Regions from separate parts of the Homo sapiens genome. Here all the other regions are linked to region 1. Evidence: fine-mapped expression QTL. A gene starts in region 1. Each other region holds a variant in brackets. All regions are shown on one strand. Distances are from middle to middle.

Region 1 (5,152 bases):
TTTCACTTTATACGGTCATCAGTTTGTGCAGGACTTTTTCCAGCAAAGTTCAGGCCCACGGGTGCAGGTACAAAGAGGGCAAAAGGTTGACTTCATCCAGAGTAAGAGTTTTGTCAGAAAAAAGTGCAGGAAGGGACAAGAGAATTTTTCAAAGGAACGACATACATTCTGGATAAGGGGGTGCAGTGGATAGAAAATGGAAAGATCAATGCAATGGAGGTATAGATGAAGGTCAAGAATTGTCTCCCTGGTAGAAAGTGGTCAGATAGTAGGAGGCTATAATTTGTTTCTTCTGCTTGGAATGGGCATCTCCCCCTTCAGCAAACTGTTTGACCCCTAAATACATCCATCCTTTTCTGCTCCCTGACTTCCTGAACCCCAGCACCACTCCCTGAGTTTGTCACCATCTCATCCAATCAGAAAGGCCCACCTCAGCGGATCACAAGGTCAAGAGAGCGAGACCATCCTGGCCAACATGGTGAAACCCCGTCTCTACTAAAAATACAAAAATTAGCTGGGCGTGGTGGCACGCTTGTAGTCCCAGCTGCTTGGGACGCTGAGGCAGAAGAATTGCTTGAACCTGGGAGGTGGAGGTTGCAGTGAGCCAAAATCGCGCCACTGCACTCCAGCCTGGTGACAGAGCGAGACTCCGTCTCAAAAAAAGAAAAAAAAAAAAAGAGAGAAAAGAAAAAGAAAGGCCGACCTCAAACTATTCGCTCCTTGAAGCATTTATGTTCTCCCCACTGAGATCCCTCCTCCTAACAACCCTCACAGAGTGTACTACTGGTAGAATAGTTCAGGTGACCACATAGTAAGTCATTCTTTTTCCTTTCTAGGCTCCTTTGGAAAAGGTATTGTTATAAATATTCAAAAGTCTCTGGATCCTGCGACAGTATTCAGAACACAGCCCTGCACGGTGCAATCATTCAATAAATAATAACAGGGATCTCAGGCTCATGGGCCTCCAAACCTCATCCCCACTTGCTAAACCAGGGTTCACTGAAATAGAATAAAAGCGCATAATCCCTGTTCACAAAAGTCTCAGATAACTTCCATTAATCTCAAAGGTTGCCTTCAATTTCACAAATTTAATTTTAATCCCCTCTAAACGTTCAAAACACCTCTATTTAGCTAATGATGGGCAAATATAAAACAAAACAAAACAAAAATAACACCCCATGCGTGAAACAGCACTCGTAGGCTACCCTACGACGATCAAAAATCTGGATGCCACAATTCGAGAAATGCCACGCTCACTAGAAAATATAGATTTTTCTTCATAGTCTAATGCAAGGCCAGAGAGACCTGGGTTGGGGCTAAGGCAAACGGCCCCACGAGGGGTGCCACGAGAGTCAACTGGCATTGGGTTTGTACTCAGGGTCGGACCTCAGCCTGGCACCTACCTTCCTCCCCTCCAGCCCCAGCCGCAACGATCACAGGAGTGGTCGCCTCGGAGCCTGCTGCCATGGCTACCGCAAGGCGGGTTCTGCCGGAACCCAAGGCGGAGCGGAGCTGGGGTGGGGTCAGAGTAGGGGCCAAACTCCGAGACCCGAAGCTGCACCACAGGAAGGAGCCCCGGCGACTCCCGCCCGGCTCCTACGGAAACGCCGGCTCTCACGTGGAGGTCACGTGACGGATGCTGGGCGGGACCACGCAGCTTTGTTTTGATACCCCGGGTGTGGAAATACAAACACGTGGTCTGAGTTGTGGCGCTTTTTACCTAACCCGGACCTTAGCGTTCTTTATTGTAGTCTTAGCTTCGTTTCTGTTTCTCCTTTTCTAGTCAGATCCTTCCTTTCCACCTCGGCTTTTCTCCACCCTAAAGGATTGGAGTTTTAGGGGAAGGTTTGCCGCTTAGTGGGGCTCCGGCGGTGGGATGGGTCTCTGCCGTGAGCTTTCGCGAGCCGCTCTTGGCAGCCTGGAATGCGAGGCTAGCTCACGCTTCTCTTACACCTCTCTTGCCCTTCTGGTGGTAACCTGACTCCTTCTGATTTTAGTGGCTGCCGGGAAATACGAACCTCGGGCAAAGAATCCTGTGATTGCGTTCCCTGTGACTCATTTCCCGATCCAGACAAGCCAAATTGCTTGACTTTAGGTTTTCAAGGACACTAATCCACAGCTGTCAGGCTTCTGAATTTGTATACCAAAATAAACAAACAGCTGTGTGAAGAGATCAACAACCACCTTTCTTCTCGTTTACCCTGTGGTCAAATCATAATCACTGGAGATGGATCTTTGGGGCAAAAATCTTCCAACTTTACTGGACATACCTTTATTGCTCGCCTATTGGCAGGCGAAATGGGTAAAGTTTACATATATATGAATGAAATTGGCTAGTTTGGAATCTCCTCTTTGGATATGTAAGACAAAAAAGTAACAAAAATAGGTAGTACTTATTGCACGTAAGAAATGATTTTTATGAGATAATCCCCTGGGACCAACTACGCTTAAACTTTATCCTTCGCCTATAATTTCTGAAGTTACTAACTCAACAAAAATGAGAATAAGCCCAAAATAGAAGCAAGCATCAGGTTAACTGACGTCACTTAACAGGTCACTGAGTTGTTTATTAGGCACAAGATTTAACTTGGACACTTCCTCCAAACACCCCAGGGTTCCTTGCCCAACCTCCTCGAATACAGCCTCTCTGGGAGTTTCCCTCTCCCCGACTCAGCCGCGCTGGTCCCTGCCTTTTCAGCGCTACCTGCCCTCCGTCTGGGACCTGGCTCCTTTCCTCTCGCCGGTGTTTCCTCGCCACCCGCGGAGGGGAGGGCGGACCCCAGCCTCCTTGCCGCCTGCCCCGCCTCCCCGCCTCCCCGCCGGCCCGGCTCGGGCCGCGCAGGCGCACCAGGCGCGGTCCGGAGGCCGAGGGCGACCACAGCAGCCTCCGCCTCCTGCTGCTCAGGACTATTCTGCGCTGGGCTAGTCGGCGGTGACCCGGACTGCGCCCGGCAGTGGCTTCGCGGGCGACGCGTCGCCATGGGCTCTCGCTGGAGCAGCGAAGAGGAGAGGCAGCCGCTGCTGGGGCCCGGGCTCGGGCCTGGGCTGGGGGCCTCCTGGAGAAGCCGGGAGGCGGCGGCGGCGGCGCTGCCCGCGGCGGTCCCGGGTCCCGGGCGGGTATACGGGCGCCGCTGGCTGGTGCTGCTGCTCTTCTCGCTGCTGGCGTTCGTTCAGGGCCTGGTCTGGAACACCTGGGGTCCCATCCAGAACTCGGCGCGCCAGGCCTACGGCTTCTCCAGCTGGGACATCGCGCTGCTCGTGCTGTGGGGGCCCATCGGCTTCCTGCCCTGCTTCGCGTTCATGTGGCTCCTGGACAAGAGAGGTGAGGGGTCGCGGAGCGCCAGCCCGCGCTGTCTCTCCTCCGGGAGCAGGCGCCTGCCCGCGCTCCAGGCCTGCCAGCCGCCTCCCTTGGCCCCGGCATAGGGGTTGTGTGAGGTGATAGAGTGTTGCTAGCATTCCATTTCTGACTTAGGAACCCTCCGTCCCCAAAGCGACAAATATGGAAAGGCAACCTTGCAAATATTTATGTTTTTTATCAAGGCCCTTTATGCAACACCAGGGATTTAAGCGATCTCTAAACGTTCAAGTTTTTACACATTGTGAACATCAGAGCATCCCCGTGCACGTGCGGTGTATGTGTTTTACACCTGACAAAAATGACTGATGCTTTGACTTCAAAGGGATATGGGGATGTTGAGGATGAAAGGTCGGAAAATAGATTGACGGTGCCCATATGTAAGGAAATAATGAGTTCGTTTTGTGTAATAGATGACTCCAGCCCAGGAAGAGCTATTGGGAAACTCAGATCTGACACTTTGGTTTCTGGAAGGTGGTGCTCGGCAGCTTTAAAATGTGTGTATGTGACTAGATGGCTTTCTCAGTTGAGATTTGTGACTTTCAATTAAAGCTTGCAGATGAGTGAAGATGCTTGCTTAGAATGGTACCCTGGACATCTCACTTTACCACTTGCCAGTGTGATTCTCTGAGAAGAAAAAGCCATAGGGCTGAGAATCAAGGCATACTTACCACATAAGTATGGATAAATGATTAGTAGTGACAGTCTACCCTCAAGAGGCTGTTGTGCAAGATTTTATATTTATTAATTGAATAATGCCTGGGAGCTACTTTGTACAGTTTCTGTTCAACCTTTTATAAGTTTTGTTGCAATGAGTTCTTTAGTCAGATTTGGAAGGTTGTCTTAGTCCACTGGAGCTGCTATAACAAAATACCATAAACTGGGTAGTTCATAAACACAGAAATTTATTTCTCACAGTTCTGGAGGCTGGGAAGTCCAAGATGAAGGCTCAGGCAGAATCGGTGTCGGGTGAGGGCCTGCTTCCTACACAGTGGTCTCTTCACTATAACATAAGATGGAAGAAGGGGTTAGGGAATCCCTCTGAGGTCTGTTTTATACGGGCAGTAATCCTATTCACATGGGTTCCACCCTCATAACCTAATCACCTTCCAAAGGCTGCACCTTCTTATTCCATCATTTTGAGGGTTAAGATTTCAAAATGTGAATTTGAGGCCTGGCGCAGTGGCTCAAGTAATCCCAGCACGTTGGGAGGCTGGGGTGGGAGGATTGCTTGAGCTCAGGAGGTCGAAGCTGGAGTGAGCTGTGATGGCACCACTGCACTCTGCCCTGGTCAACAGGGCAAGACTCGTCTCAGAAAAATTAATACATAAACAAAATATGAATTTGAGGGGAACACATTCAGACCTCAGCAAAAGTCAAGTGTAGGTAGGTATAGAATTGCAATTGTCTGGCATGTAGTTAGCACTCAAAATTAGTTGGTTATTAAGAGAATAGAATAGCAGGGTGATGTTAGTAGTTATACTTCCTTCTCTCCTCCTTCACTGGAATTCCTTCATTGGAATCCATGTGAAAAAGACTAAGGAATAGTTGATTGTGAATTCCTTAATGATCAACAATATAATGTAGCTGCTAAAAAAGAAAGGACAGTTTAGGCATAGAAACATAGTGTCCAAAACAAGAAGCAAAATAGTTTGATAGGCTCTACATTAGTGTTTAGTTCTGAGCTTGATTCTGAGAAGGCCATTTGACAAACTGCAGAACTTTAAAGGTTCTGCGACAAGAATGATAAAGGGTATAAAAATCATGATGTGTAAAATGAAGGGAACTTGTGTGTAT
Region 2 (5,152 bases), 110 kb after region 1:
GAACAAGCAGGAACATGTGTGGTGCTGGCTGAGAGCTGGATTCACTCCTCTGAGTGGGGAGATAAGATGTCCGGGAACTGGATTTACCTCAGCACATAGACCGTTTATTTCTGGATGTGGCCCAGGAAAGCAAACACAAATGTGTCAAACTCCTCTTTTCTCTGAAAGAGAATTTAAAAGTAAAGATCATAGGCCAAGCCAATGGTAACATCTTTTGGGCAAAGAATCTCCTTTGTAGGGTATTTGGGTAGAGGGAGAAGTTGGTCCAGGAGAGTGAGTTCTGAGCCACACCCGTGGATGTCCATGAGATAGAGAGCTCCTACAGTTACAAGAATCATAGAGTCACTTCAGCCATCATAAGAAGTGATTCGACTGGATATGGGTTGGAGCCAAGAGGGGGCCAGCTACCCTTTCTCTCTCTCCCTCCCTGTCTCTCAATCTCAGCCAGTCCAGTCTTTCTCCCTCGCAGTCTCGGTGTTTCTGCTACATTCTTCTATTGCTACTAGCCTATCTTATCCTCATTCTTCAGTCCAGATCCCACAGACAGCCACTCTGACTGGCTTAGCTGATTTCCCTCTGGGCTTTTGGATAGGGTCCTTCAAGACTGCACACCGTGGCAGGCAGCCAATCTGTAGCCATCCCTGTGCAAAGACCAGCTCAACACTGCTTGTCTGTTGGGAGGAGGATGGGTGGGAGGAGCTGTTTCAGAAACCTGGGAGTAATAGACATGACAAAACCGTGACTGAGATGTCCATTTGCCTGTCATTTTCTAGGGTGGAGATGGAAGTCTGGTCTTCCCATGCCCACTTGTCTCAAGCCCCTCCCACACATCAAGTGACAGTAACAGCTTTTCTATCACCATTTAGGGATCATATGGACATTAAAATGAAGATGAAGAGAACACAGGAACTCTGTAAGTCTAAAAAGATGCCCTAAACAGCCAGAAGGGCCCCACTCCTTGCCCGGATCACAAGTGCTGGTAACGGAGGGTTGGGGGAACCAGGGAGGAATTCCAGGAACCCTGGGCCTTGTCCCTACTCCTGAGATAAGGAAAGGGGTGGAAGAAGGGAGGGCCGTAGGATCCCAGACAGCTTCAGTGTCGAGGGCTTTGGGATTCCCTCTGCCCAAAATGCCCAGGTATAGATCCTGAAAGCCCCAACATCACTGACTTCTTTGAGGTCAGACCCTGAAAACCTTTATGCACAGTCAACCAGTCACACTTAGGCTGGAATCTGCGTAGCCAATTGGTATTTTAAAGAAAAGGAACCCAGGAAACATAAGACATCAAAAGAGGCAAGATTTGATGGCAAAAAAACAAACAAAAAAAAAGTTGTAAGCCGAGCACGGTGGCTCATGCTTGTAATCCCAGCACTCTGGGAGGCTGAGGCAGGTGGATCACCTGAGGTCAGGAGTTTGAGACCAGCCTGGCCAACGTGGTGAAACCCCATCTCTACTAAAAACACAAGAAGTTAGCTGGGTGTCGTGGCGGGCTTTGGTGATCCCAGCTACTTGGGAGGCTGAGCCAGGAGAATTCCTTGAACCAGGGAGGCGGTGGTTGCAGTGAGCCAAGATTGCACCACTGCACTCCAGCCTGTGGGACAGAGTGAGACTCTGTCTGAAAAAACAAAACAACAACAAAAAACCCAAACAACAAAACAAAACCAGGTGTAGTGTGGCTCTAAAGGAACATCTGACCAGGTTCCTGGGGAACCAGGGCCATGGGAGGAAGAAGGGACTCTTCTCCCATGAGAAGGGCCTGGAGATGCAGGGACTGTCAAGTCACTTTGGCCAACTTTTTTGCTCCCCTAGAATGAACTCTGCACTAAAAGTGGAGAATCACTTCTATGAGAGAAAGACATAAAAAGAAAAGATATAAGGTAATGTTACAGTAAGTTGGGCAAATCTATCAAAATTTAAAAACATGTATACTCTTTGAGTAATTCTATTTTTTCAGAATTCATTCTGCCATTATAGCTATATATATATAAGGATAGTATTCACCTGTATTCGCCTGTAATCCCAGCACTCTGGGAGGCCGAGGAGGGTGGATCACTTGAATCCAGGAGTTTG[A/C]GACCAACCTGGGCAACATAGTGAAACTTCATCTCCACAAAAAATACAAAAAACTAGCTGGGCGTGATGACATGCACCTGTAGTCCCAGCTACTCAGGAGGCTGAGGTGGGAGGATCGCTTGAGCCTGGAAGGCAGAGGCAGAGGTTGCAGTGAGCCATGATTGCACCACTGCACTCCAGCCTGGGTGACAGAATGAGACCTTGTCTTATAAAAAAAAAAAAAAAGAAAGAAAAAAAAGTATTTGCAACATTGTAACAAAAGATTGAAAATATCCTAAAAGTTCATCATTAGGGGTTTGGTTAAATAAATGCTGGTGGCAATTGTTGGGGAAAAGACAGACATGGAACACTCTAGGTGACAGATTGTTAAGTGGGAAAGCTGGTGCAGAATAGTGTGTACAGGTGAGCCCATATGTTGCCCAGAACACACACTTGGGCAAATGCTAAAATCAATATTGGGTTAAAGTTGGGGTCAAAACCAAATATTACCATCTCAGAATGAAACTCCTGGGATGCAAGAATTAACCTGAAATTTCATCCCAAAGAATGTAATTATTATTATAGTTTTGCTAATGGTCAAATTCTAAGTTTGACCTTATGGTGCAAGAACAGTAATCACTCAGCATGATCAGCTGCAAAATGGCTCTGTGATCACGTCACTGCAGTTCTTGTTGTTGTTGTTTTTGAGACAGAGCTTTGCTCTTGTCACCCAGGCTGGAGTGCAATGGCGAGATCTCAACTCACTGCAACCTCCACCTCCCAGGTTCAAGCAATTCTCCTGCCTCAGCCACCCAAGTAGCTGGGATTACAGGCACCCACCACCATGCCCAGCTGATATTTTGTATTTTTAGTAGAGATGGGGTTTCACCATGTTGGCTGGGCTAGTCTCGAACTCCTGATCTCAGGTGATACACCTGCCTCAGCCTCCCAAAGTGCTGGGATTACAAGCATGAGCCACAGCACCTGGCCTTCACTGCAGTTTTGTCATAAGAAATAGACGGTCACTTTCCACTGAGAATGGGAGAGAAGCCAGGTATTTTTCGGATATTACATTTTCCTGTACTTTTTTTCTTTTCTTCATTCTCTTTATATCCCTTGTTATGTCTGAATCAAAGGTGATTTGTCATGGATATTGTACATGGTTTTGCAATTTTTTTCTGCTTATGGAATGTTGAGATAGAAAAGCTAACATTCTTTTTTTAAAAATTCATTTTCATAAGATGTGAATTCCCAAATAGAATTTATTCCTGAAAGACTCATAACCTAAATGGAATTAAATATCAAAAATCAAACATAATTGTTAAAGGTGATTTTATTTACCATAATGCATGTGAGATATGCACCAAACTAGACAGATACTAGAGTTATGACTTAATCAAATATCTATTATTCTGACTGGTATTATTGAAAATTGTTTAACATTCATTGGCTTACAGAGATGATAATGTTCTTCCTAAAGTTATCTCACTAACATTCTCTCTCAATATTCTTTTTAATTCTCAGTCTTTTTCTCAATTTATTTGCTATTTAAAGGTGCTTGTTTTTGAACATAAAATTAGCAGCTTTCACCATCATTATGTGAAACATTAATTATTATGGCTTTTTAATCTTATAATAATAAATATATGTAGTTCAAATGACTGAGAATTTTAACATATGAAGCATAAAAGAGACTTTCACTTCAAGACTCATTTGATATTTATAGTGAGTATCATCTATTAATAAATCTAAATGGTATGCCTCATGCATATTACTAATGTTGATATGCTGATTAGATATAATGATAGACCGGGTGCAGTGGCTCACACCTGTAATCCTAGCACTCTGGGAGCCAAAGTGGGAAGATGGTGTGAACCCAAGAGTTTGACACCAGCCTGGGCAACATAGTGGGACTCCATCTCTACAAAAATTTTTAAAAATTAGCCAGGCATGGTGGCATGCGCCTGTAGTCTCAGCTACTTGGGTGGCTGAGGTAGGAAGATTGCCTGAGCCCTGGAGGCTGAGGCTGCAATGAGTCATGATCACACCACTGCACTCCAGCCTGGGCAACAGAGCAAAACCCAGTCTCAAAAAAAAAAAAAAGATATGGTGATAACCTGTTAACGATGACTGTAGATTAAGCACAAACTCTCAGGGATATTATAAATAATACTGAGGTAGGCATTCAGCTACTGAAACTTCCAAAAGCTGAGGTTGAAGGCCAATTCAAAGATTTCTACTGAATATCGAGGCCAAAGCTGACTTTTGGTGCATTTTATGTACACACATGATAAACATACATATATGTGTCTGTGTCCCTGATCTACCTCTAGGTGCCTCATGGAATGAGATCTTGGGGCCTAGGAATCAAGAATGGGAGATTCACTTTTTATTGGATATCCTTTTGTACTGTGAGCTCTTTGGAGCCTACACCCCTAGGAATCTCGGAAGGGAGATTTATCAGGGGTGGTGGGGGAAGTGGACCCTCTGTTTTTGAGAGTGCTCAGTGCTGGGCAGAGCTGATTAGGAATGTCCAAGTACGGTGGGGGTCCTGTATCCTACCAGCCCTGGAAACTGGGGTGCAAACCTAGGGAAACATCTCCCTTTTAGGGTGATTGGAGGGTGATTGGTGGAAGGACCTTATGGGTAGGGATAAATTTTCCCACAAACTCCAGAGTTCACATTTCAGACTCTAAAGCCTGAGCCTCCCCCAGTCAGCACAGCTACAGAATTAGAGGTGCAGCCCCCAAGGACTAAGTGAGTGCCCTGTTGGCAGCTCAGGATGAGGAGAGAGGCTTTTCCAGAGCAGCGTGTTTGGGGCTGGCCTGCAGGGTTCTCAGTGAGTCGTCAGGGTGACCTAGCAGTGCAGCTGGGGGCCATGGAGTGGTCTGAGTGGCAGGCCAGGCTGGCTCAGAACAGCTGGGCCCTGGGAGGAGCCTGGGGCCCCAGTGAGCACAGGCCTGGTGGACCTCCAGTTAAAAGACTCCTTCCTAGGGAGCTCCTGAAATGCTGGACCCAGGTGACTGACACATCGTTTGGTAGAAATGGCGGGATGTCTCTCCTCTTCTGGAAGATCCCCTTTTGGAATGCTGCAAGTCTCAGA
Region 3 (5,152 bases), 36 kb before region 1:
AGGAAGCAGTGAGCTATGATTGTGCCACTGCACTCCAGCCTGGGTGACAAAGCAAAACCTTGTATCTAAAAAAAAAAAAAAAAAAATTCATTTCGGAGCTATAAGGCAGCCTATCAATTTACACGGCCATCAGCTTAAAAACCATTGAGGTTCAAAAGCTGTTTGCCTAATCTTAAAGCTTTAACTTAATTTAAGCTTTAAGAGCTGCTCCATTCCACTGTATGATTAGTTTGAAAGCAGTTTTCAGTATTGATATGCTTCGAATGTTAGAGTTGGAAGGGCTCTGAAGAGATCATCAGTCTAATTTCATTTCCAAAGTAGTGGCAGAAAGACTCAGAGCTTGCCCAGTGTCACTCACTGGGGTAGTGGTGGATTCAGAGCTAGGTCACAGATCTCCTGGCTTCTCCAGATCCCAGTTCCTTCCCCTGCACCACAGCAATATTTCCCAAAGGAACAGCCATAATGATAACCATCCCATCCAATCTGCTTTGTTTGGGTTAAAAAATGTAAAATGCATGAATCCTTCTATTAGAAAAGGTATTCAATCATCATGTGATCTCCTGCTTTAAAAACTTCTCATGGTTCTGGATGCTGAAAGAACAGAGAATAACAGTGTCTGCCTGGAAGTCAAGACCCTGGGGACTCAACCTACCTGCCTTTCTGGTCTACTCCCTCTGTCTCCAATGCACAACATATACTGGACAACTCAAGGGGTCCTCTCTACACCCCATGCTTTCTCAGGGTCCCTCTGCCCTTCCCATCTGGGTCTTTTGAGCACTTATCCATCCTTCAAGGCCCACCACAAATGGCAGCTCCTCTGTGAAATCTTCCCTGATCTTTACAACAGGAACATGATCTCTTCTACTTTTTAGTCCCACAGCTCTGTGAAACCTTCCTCTAGAGCATGGGTATTCTGCCTTGTATCATGGATGTCTGTCGGCTTGCCTTGCACTCTGGCTGTAAACTCCCATCATAGAGAGGGTGTCTTACTCCCTCACCTCTGTACCTACTGTAACACATGGTCCCTGTACAGAAGGATACTCAATGGATATTTACTAAAGCTATTTTATTATTCCAGAGTTATATAAGGCCAGAAAATGTCTTATTACAAAGTTAAAATAAAGTGATATTAACTTTATATCATAGAGAGAATTCAGGTATTTTTTGATGTTTTTCCAACTTGAATTTCTTTGGCTTGTTTCCAATTCAGAACACATGGACAGCAGCTACTTAAAATGTTGTCTCTCTTACCAAGTTTAAGGTTTCAGCCTGTTAACTCCACAAGGATAGAGACCACACTCATCTGATTGACTCTTGCATCCACAGCGTGTAGCTATGTACCTGACACATTCTATGCCCTTTAATAAAGACGGAATGCATCAGAGAGTGGACTAACTTCTACCATTCTGTAATTCTCAGAGTTCTTCACATGTGAAATGTATCCACAGACATACTGACTATTTCTCCTGAATCTGCTCATAATCCTTTTCACATCTAATAGGTCTGAGAACTTGCACATGACCTTTTCTGTTTTACTCTCTGTGCTGCCCTGTAAATGTCCCACATGACCAGGAGAAAAGACTGGGGCATCATTAATTAGGGGAAAATAAGGCTGCACATACATCTGAGTACATCCTCCAAGTGGCACAAACACTTAGACTCTCATAGAACTCCAGAAACCAGGTATATCAAAAGCACTGCCTATCCCTCGTATCTTCTAGAGTCCACAGATAGATGGAGACAAAAACTGACCTAAGGTAACAATACACTGTATTGTGTCAAGTAGGCACAAACTAAAATTTAGAGTTGAAAGCGTCCAGTATTTTTCAAACCAGGATCGCTGGCATCCCTTGGAGAGGAGCTTGAGGGCAACAGTGAAGCCTCTTCCTTTCAACAAACTGCTCTGCTCTTATTTATTTAGATTTGAAGAAAGGGTGTTCCCATTTTTAAATAAAAGTTTGAAAACTACAAACTCTTATGTAAAAAAGAAAAGCTAAGCATAGGCTGGGCATAGTGGCTCACACCAGAACTTTGAGAGGCCAAGGCAGGAGTATGGTTTGAGGCCATACTTGGGCAACACAGAAAGACTCCATCTCTAAATAAAAAGTTTTTTAAATTAGCTGGGCATACTGGCACACACCTGTAGTCCTAGATACTTGAGAGGCTGCGGCAGGAGGATGGCTTGAGGTCCAGGAGCTATGATCATGCCATTGCACTCCAGCCTGGGCAACAGAGCAAGACTGTCTCAAATGTCTCTAATTTACCAAAAAAAAAAAAAAAAAAAAGACCAAGCAGAGAGCTGTCTAGCTGACCTGGGAGTGGAATCTCAGAGTTCTAGAATAAACTCTCTGAAGACAATCCTGATCATGACAAGGCACGCACCTGTAAACCACCATTTTAACTGTCCTCATTTCACAGAGGAGAAACCAAAACCAGAGGTTAAGAGGTCTGCCCTAATCATGAGGCAGGCTGACAGGATGGGGCTGGGACTACACCTTGGGGTATTGCCCTATTCTCTCTGCCACCCCTATTGCATGCATGCACATGTGCGTTCCACACACACACACACACACACACACACACACACATTACCTTCCTTGTACCTGGAATACCAAGTTACAACCATAGGAGTCCAGATGACAGGGTGTGTGGGCTCCCAAGGAGCCAATCCACAATGTACTTTCCTGTCCATTTCTTCCAGGAAACCCGAAGTCAGACCATTTCACATCCTGTTTTGAAATAAAGTTGCAATCCATCAAGAACTAACCAACTTCTCTGTATGGTAATGCTGCCCATTTTCACTTGCACATCTGTTATTTAGCAGTTGGAATATTCTATTATGGAAAATGCTACAGATGGAAGAGGTTAGGTTTCCAGGGCAGTTCAAGAAATCTTTTTAGCCAATAACATATTTGAATAACCACACTAATAGTAATCATTCAACAAATATTTACTGACTACTTACAACATGCCAGGCACTGTTCTGGAAGCTTGTAATGAATCAATGAACAAAAGAGACAAAATGCCTACTCGGATGAAGCTTACATTTCAGAGTTGGAAACAGACAATAAACAGACAGGATTATGCTGATATTTAGGGAAAGCGTGTTTTGGGCAGTTAGAACAGTGAATGCAGCGGAAATGGCATTATTTCAAATATCTCTGAGACACAACCGAAGAAGTCAGAAAGCCGTA[T/C]TTCCTCTAAGCAGTGCAGATATTTGTGTACATACGCAACTTACTAACTTTGTGTACTTCAATGACCACATAAATGAAGACTTCTCCTACATTAGTGGGGTTACTTAAAACTATCAATGCTGGAGCCTTAGCTCATACCTACTAGATCAGTCTTCAGATGAGGGTGTCAAAATACATCTTTTGAAATATACATCCATGGATGGCTTTCAATATACTCCCCAAAGTCATGAACTTCTTAAGTGCAATGATCTTTAGAACAGAGACAGCATAGTGCTCTGGACTTAAGACTCTCCATATGCCTGGTTCTGTGAGCAAATCCTGCCCAAGTCAACTACTGGGAAAAGCCTATACTTTTAGAAGCCGATGGCGCATTTGCAGCACAGAAAAATAGGGTCACACATAAACCCAAATCCATGTGATTAAACAGATTTATAAGCTAGAAAAGAAAAAAAACATACTAGTGAACCAGGCATGATGGCTCTGCCTTATTTTTATTTTAATCATGAGGTTTTCCTTTCAGTTTTAAAAAATAAAAGCAAAAAAAAAAACACCCCACTTCTATGTGCAGAACATCGTTCTCAATGCTGACACTCCTTTTATCAGTAACTACAGTCTAAATTTTCTATTTTTAGAGGGAAAACATTAACAGCTGTATTCAAAGAGAAAGGATTTTAAAGAGAAATTTAATGGATGGTTTTGAGGAAGACTAGAAAGAGCATTTTTTTTTTTCATTTTTGCTTTGAGTGATGAAAATGGCTGAATACGTGCACATAATTAATGTCTGTCATAGAAGGGGGAATTTTTGCAAGGTCAGCACCACTGTAAATGCACATGGCTCACATGTGGCAGTTCCAGTGGGTGGCAAAAATCCTGTTCTCTCTGCATGTAGCCTATAAGCTCCATACTGGGAGCTTACCCCTGTTTTCTCAATGCCTAATTTAGTACCTGGCTCAGGGTTACAGCTTGGAACACACTGGCTGCTTGGGAGGGAAAGAAGAATCTGTTGACTTATGATGGTTAAAATAGTTCAGGCCAATGACATTTTTGAGTACCTACCATATACGTGGTATGATGCTGGGTGCTGGGGATACAAAAATTAATATAACACAGGCCAACCCTTCAAGTCTAATAATGAGTGATAATCCCATAAACAGAGCCTTTCAATATGATGTAACAAGCGCTCTGACACAAGTATGCAGGGAATGCTTTAAGATCACAGCAGGAGGGCCCTGCACCCAGCCAGGGAGCTTAGGGGAGGCTTCCAATTAACCTGGTCCTTGTTGAACAATTTACCACACCTCAGTCTGAGGAATTTAACTAAAGGTAGCTGAAAGCCATTCAGTATAAAAAGGAAAAAAGAGAGACTTGCCTTAGCTAAGAAGAGATAGGTCATGTGATTCTTAATCTTATAGATACATCCCTTCAGGAATCTAATGAATACCAAAGCCCCTTCTCCTCAGAAAAAAGCACACACGAAACTTTATATATACTTTCAAAGAGGTGACAGACCAACCCCACATGAAAAACCCTGTTCTAGAGCCCTGCTTTGGAAAGAATCACTGAAGGTTTTTCTACAGGGTGAGGTTACTGTATGAGAAACTGAGGAGAGACTTCCCTGGCCTCCTGTCTAACAGTAATAATGACTTAAAAAGCAAAACTGTCAGCCAGGTGCAGTGGCTCATGCCTGTAATCCCAGCACTCTGGGAGGCTGAGGTGGGAGGACTGCCTGGGTCCAGGAGTTCAAGACCAGCGTGGGCAATGTTTGGTGAGGCTCTGTCTCTACAAAAAGGTTTTTTTTTTTTTTTTAACAAATTGGCTGGGCGTGGTGGCATGCACCTGTGGTCCCAGCTACTTGGGAGGCTGAGAAGGGAGGATCACTTGAGCTTGGGAGGTCAAGGCTTCAGGGAGCTATGTTTGCACCACAGCACTCCAGCCTGAGTGCCTGAGTGACAGAGCAA
Region 4 (5,152 bases), 27 kb before region 1:
GAGTTCGAGGCCAGCCTGGCCAACATGGTGAAACCCCGTTTCTACTAAAAATCCAAAATTTAGCCAGGTGTGGTGGTGCACGCCTGTAATCCCAGCTACTCAGGAGGCTGAGGCAGGAGAATTGCTTGAACCTAGGAGGCAGAGGTTGCAGTGAGCTGAGATCATGTGACTGCACTCCAGCCTGGGTGACAGAGTCAGACTCTGTCTCAAAAAAAAAAAAAAGAGAAAAAGAAAAAAAAAAAGAAATACATGAGCCTGAAAGCTTCCTAACACTATTTTTCTGATAAGAACAGTGGTATTAACAAATGTGACTTTTTGAATAATGAAATGTATCAAGTATACTGAAAATGTGTCAACATTTGGAAGATCTACTAATTCAGTAAGTCAATATTTTCCAAATGGTCCATGAATAACATTACATAAGATCCATTCTGTGCAAGACAGACCAATGGATTTTATAAGAGTAGAGAGTTCATTCATTATAGGTTCAGATTTTTATACTGCAACTAATGAACCTTTAAGAAACTACCCCTCATCAAGTTTGGTGTGTGTGGTATAAAAAAATCCACAATTATCTGAAAAGGCTGTTATTAATAAATACTCCTCCCTTTTTCAGTTTCATATGTGTGTGAGGCAAAATTTTCTTCATATACTTTAAACAAACCAACAAATTGCAACAGCTTGAATGGAGAAGCAGAGAATCCAGCTGTCTTCTTACAGCCAGACATCAAGAAGACATGCCAAAATGTACAACAATCTATCCCTCTAATGACATTAAACATTTTTTGAATATAGTTATTTTCTCAAAAATATTATTATGTTAACGTATAGTGGGTTGTGTCATTTTAAATAAATCAATAAACATTTTTAAAATGTACCCATTTTAATGTTTAACTACCCACCATTTTATGACAGATATAAGAAAGCTTGAAACAGCAAGTAATAAGACTTGGTGGCTGAATGAATTAAACCAACACAGGTACCTGTGATGTAAGAAGACTTGGTGCCCAGAAAATTTTGAGACAAAAGATGATATAATCTTAATGGACTTGGTTATTCATAGCAGAATTAATTGCCATAATATGAGCTGACAGAAAACTCATTCAACTCAAAATATCAGATTTTATAAGGGCTCAGTCAGAATTCCAGCACATTGCCAAAAGGCTGCCCTTTATATCCGCACTTAATGGACAGGTCACATACTGCACAGTACTGCCTTGCCTGGGGTGGGACAGAACTACTAATGGGGTCAGATCAAACACTCATCCAAGGCAGAGTGAGCCTACACTCAGGACAGAGAGTCCCAACAGGACCGAATGTATGCACACGCTCTGTAGGCACAGCAGTAATTAAAGCTCTGTAGTAGTTAAAGCTCTGAAGGCAGACTATTTGGGTTACCCCTTCCTTGTTGTATAATCTTAGAAAAGGTTTACTTAACCTCTTTGGGTCTCATTTTTCTTAAAATGGGGACAATTATTAAATCATAGAGTTACTTTGAGGATTATAAGTGTAAAACATTAGAAAAATTCCCCCAAAAAGTAAGTACATGATCAATGTTACTATTAAGCAATATTTTACCTGAAATATGGAGTAAAGTACTAGTCTAATTTACGGAATGGTGGGGCGTGGGTATGAGAAACATAACAAAACACTTTTAAAGTTAACTATGAAACCTGTAAGTTCCATAATTAAAGAACCATAAAGTGATCACAATTAAGGTTGTAAGAAAAAACATCTACCTTAAAATTATCATTTAAAAATGAGTAAATAGTAGATTTGGTATTGACTTTGAATTCAGAGTCATTTACTGAATGTTTTTAAAACCTATGCATTTCTTTCATGGGTATGAGAATGAAAATACATTCTCAACTAACAACTATGACAGGACGGGCACAGTGGCTCACGCCTGTAATCCCAGCACTTTGGGCGGCCGAGGCTGGTGGATCACTTAAAGTCGGGAATTTGAGACCACCCTGGCCAACATGGTAAAACCCTGTCTCTACAAAACAATACAAAAATTAGCTGGGCATGGCGGCAGTCACCTGTAATCCCAGCTACTGGGGTCAGGGGGTGGGTGATGGCTGTGGCAGGAGAATTGCTTGAACCTGGGAGGAGGCAGAGGTTGCAGGGAGTCGTAATTGCGCCACTGCATTCCAGCCTGGGTGACAGAGTGAGACTCCATCTCAAAACAACAATGACAACAACAACAAAAAAAACAACTATGGGGCAAGGTGACACATTTTTCCTTTTTTATAAAATAAAAAAGCAAAATTAAGCCAGGCGCAGTGGCACATTCCTATACTCCCAGCAACTCGGGAGACTGAGATGGGAGGATCTATTATAATAACTATGTTAACATCAGCATTTACATCTTGACTCAACATAAAAAAGAAAAATATACACTGAATGGAAAATTACTGAGGAGCCAAAGAACTATCAGCCTATATGAAAGCCAAGTCCAGAGAGTGGGTGGTGGCAGAGAGGAGAAG[G/T]GGTGAACAGCCTGCAGGGATGGTGAAATACTTCTCTCCACAAAGAAGGGGCAGGAAGAAGGACTCTGGAGCCTTGGCCTGAGTCAGGGCAAGGCAGAGTCCTCCAAACAGCCTCCAGGATGGCTCCCATTCCTGCCCCACACCTAAGACACATGGCAACAAGAGCAGGGAGTTTGCAAAATTATCTCACAAAATAAACTGCCAGTTTAAGGTAGAAAACACTTAAAAGAGGATATGGTAGTCTGGAAACTCTGTTGTCAGTTATGTCAACATACGGCAAAGAACTTCCATAATTTTACTTCTGCAAGTCACTCCCACACTTCTACAGGGCTTCCACTACCAAATACTGGGAGCCAAGTGTTCTCTGCCTCAGGCCATGAACTGCCAGAGAAAACAGCTGTCCAAAACCCCTAGAGCAGGTAGAAATTGCAGCAGCAGCCTGGTCACAGCCCAAGGAATGCTCCTTCACAGAATCAGCTTTATGCTTTCATCTGCCTCACTGACAGGACAAGAACTTATATGGAGGTCAGGAGGCAATGAAGTTTTATACACAATCTATGCTTCTAACATACTCCAAACCGACTCAAGCACTGTTTAAAAGCAAAGGAGGGTGTGTAGGAAGTTTGGGAGTAGGAAAACAAGGAAGCCTGCTCATCTGTGTGAGCCAAATGGTACACTTCTCTTCAGCAAATCTTTTGGTTTGAGTGGGTGAAATATCCAAGATTCATGGCGATTACTTATGAGAGAAAAAGGCAGAGAAGGTGCCAGGGAGATTCTAATTTGTGTTCTTTTCTCAAAAACAAATTCCTACCAAGATTAGAAGGAAGGTTCTGACTTACCTGGAAAAGATCTGTCTTGTCTTCAAATAGACTGACAAAATATTTATAGTCAGCATAAGCCCAGAACTTGGAATGGTCATAATCTCTAAATGGTCCAGAAATACTAGACTGGTCACAGTTCCAGGTCAGAAACTCTTCGAGTGTAGCTTCTACGTAATTACATGTAGTTTCAAACTGAGGAACTGCAATGTAAGAGAATGCAACCTTAAATGTATAATGAACACATTTCCTAATTATTGTTTTTTTTTTAAAATAAAGATAATTTCAACCAAAAAATTAACTTTGAAGACTAATTAAAAATTCGTGTTGAGCCAGGTGTGGTGGTGCATGCCTGTAATCCTAGTTTCTCTGGAGGTTGAGGCAGGAAGATGGCTTGAGCCCAGGAATTTGAGACCAGTCTGTGCAACAGAGCAAAACCCCATCTCCAAAAAAAAATTAATTAAAAAATTTAAAAATTAATTTGTACTTGTTATATAATGAGTGCCATTTACAAAATTCACAATACTCAGGATTAAACATAAAAGTATAAAGCAGTTTTAACCTTAAGATTAAAGACTACCCTATGAGTAGATTTAATAATCCAAACTTGAGGATTTAGTAAATAAAAACTTGAGGCACCATACAGTTAAATGCAAAATTTTATGCTGCTGACACCTGGAAAAGGCAAAGACCACTAGAGATGAGGGTTGATCAGGAAAGCTTCAATAAAAGATGTATTATCTGTCCACAGTGGCTTGTTATTATGGGTATGACTCCAATGAGTCAAGATTGGAGTCAGTGGATTGACACAAAAACTATTCTAAAAGAATGATGAAATTAATTTTATTTTTGCAACTTAAATGAACAGAGGAAGTTAATATTTAAGAAATCTGATTATGACTTCCTTTACAAAACATGAAATCCTTTCAGGATGTGATGTAGATCAGTTAGCACAGTGCTTGACACAGCAGATTTCAATAAATGTTCGCCACTATTTTTTTATTTTTTGTTTTTGTTTTGAGACAGGGTCTTGCTCATCATACAGGCTGGAGTGCAGTGGTGCAATCTCGGCTCACTGCAACTTCTGCCTCCCGAGTTCAAGCAATCCTCGCGTCTCAGCCTCTCAAGTAGCTAGGACTAGAGGCATGTGCCACCACGTCTGGCTAATTTTTGTATTTTTTAGTAGAGATGGGGTTTGGCCATGTTGGCCAGGCTGATCTTGAACTCCTGCCCTCAAGTGATCTGCCCACCTGGGCCTCAAAGTGCTGGGATTACAGGTGTGGGCCACCGTGCCCAGTCAATGTTAGGCACTATTATTAGTACTTCTTATCCATTCATATATTTACTTGGAACCCTTTAAAAGTTAGCTGAATCAGTAGCAGGAAGAGAAGAATATTCACATTCTTCTTTCAACAGCTTTTATCTTTTCTTACGTTTCTGCCTGTAACTGCTTAGAATTATCCAATAATCTTTTTCCTTTACCTTCTTTTTCCTAAGCCACAGAATGGCAGAGAGGTAATAGAGGCAGGGTGTATGTCAACGAATCATCCTAATTCATCCACTTTAACTTGTCACCTCACTTTGAGAAGCAGAAGAACTTAACTAGGGCACATTTATCTAAAAGATTAAAATGTACATATTCAAGAACTATTTAAATTTTAACAATTTTTGTAAAGCACTTAGTGCCTGGCACATAGTAAACAATCAATATACATAAACTCTTAACATACCAACATTGGCCAGGCGTAGTGGAACATGCCTATAATCCCAGCACTTTGGGAGGCCGAGGTGGGAGGACTACTTGAGCCCAGGAGTTTGAGATCATCCTGGGCAATACGGTGAAAC

Direction of the effects. Positions count from the first base shown, and alleles are read on the strand shown. Sizes are in standard deviations (SD) of each study's normalised expression. Not every link is listed here.
As copies of A replace C in region 2, the expression in prefrontal cortex of the gene that starts at base 2,856 in region 1 goes up (small effect, 0.26 SD a copy in ROSMAP).

The links. PIP is the estimated chance that this variant, and not a neighbour inherited with it, causes the effect.
Region 2: its variant is the best candidate, but not a certain one, in a credible set for the expression of SLC49A4 in prefrontal cortex (ROSMAP, PIP 0.52).
Region 3: its variant is the best candidate, but not a certain one, in a credible set for the expression of SLC49A4 in whole blood (TOPMed, PIP 0.58).
Region 4: its variant is the best candidate, but not a certain one, in a credible set for the expression of SLC49A4 in blood mononuclear cells (TOPMed, PIP 0.65).

The regions. Positions count from the first base shown.
Region 1 is chr3:122,792,214-122,797,365 of GRCh38, forward strand. SLC49A4 (solute carrier family 49 member 4) reads left to right here and starts at 2,856. Exons shown (of 9, transcript NM_032839.3): 1 at 2,856-3,322. The coding sequence starts at 2,980. It overlaps HSPBAP1 (HSPB1 associated protein 1), which reads right to left and starts at 1,618. Exons shown (of 8, transcript NM_024610.6): 1 at 1,404-1,618. The coding sequence starts at 1,467. RefSeq lists a silencer at 2,693-3,182.
Region 2 is chr3:122,898,446-122,903,597 of GRCh38, forward strand. No RefSeq gene overlaps it. Among named protein-coding and RNA genes, the nearest start is that of LINC02035, 15 kb to the left of the region's middle. The variant A/C (reference allele first, on the strand shown) is at 2,071.
Region 3 is chr3:122,756,632-122,761,783 of GRCh38, forward strand. It overlaps HSPBAP1 (HSPB1 associated protein 1), which reads right to left. Exons shown (of 8, transcript NM_024610.6): 4 at 2,593-2,729. Among named protein-coding and RNA genes, the nearest start is that of HSPBAP1, 35 kb to the right of the region's middle. The variant T/C (reference allele first, on the strand shown) is at 3,195.
Region 4 is chr3:122,765,373-122,770,524 of GRCh38, forward strand. It overlaps HSPBAP1 (HSPB1 associated protein 1), which reads right to left. Exons shown (of 8, transcript NM_024610.6): 3 at 3,329-3,510. Among named protein-coding and RNA genes, the nearest start is that of HSPBAP1, 26 kb to the right of the region's middle. The variant G/T (reference allele first, on the strand shown) is at 2,490.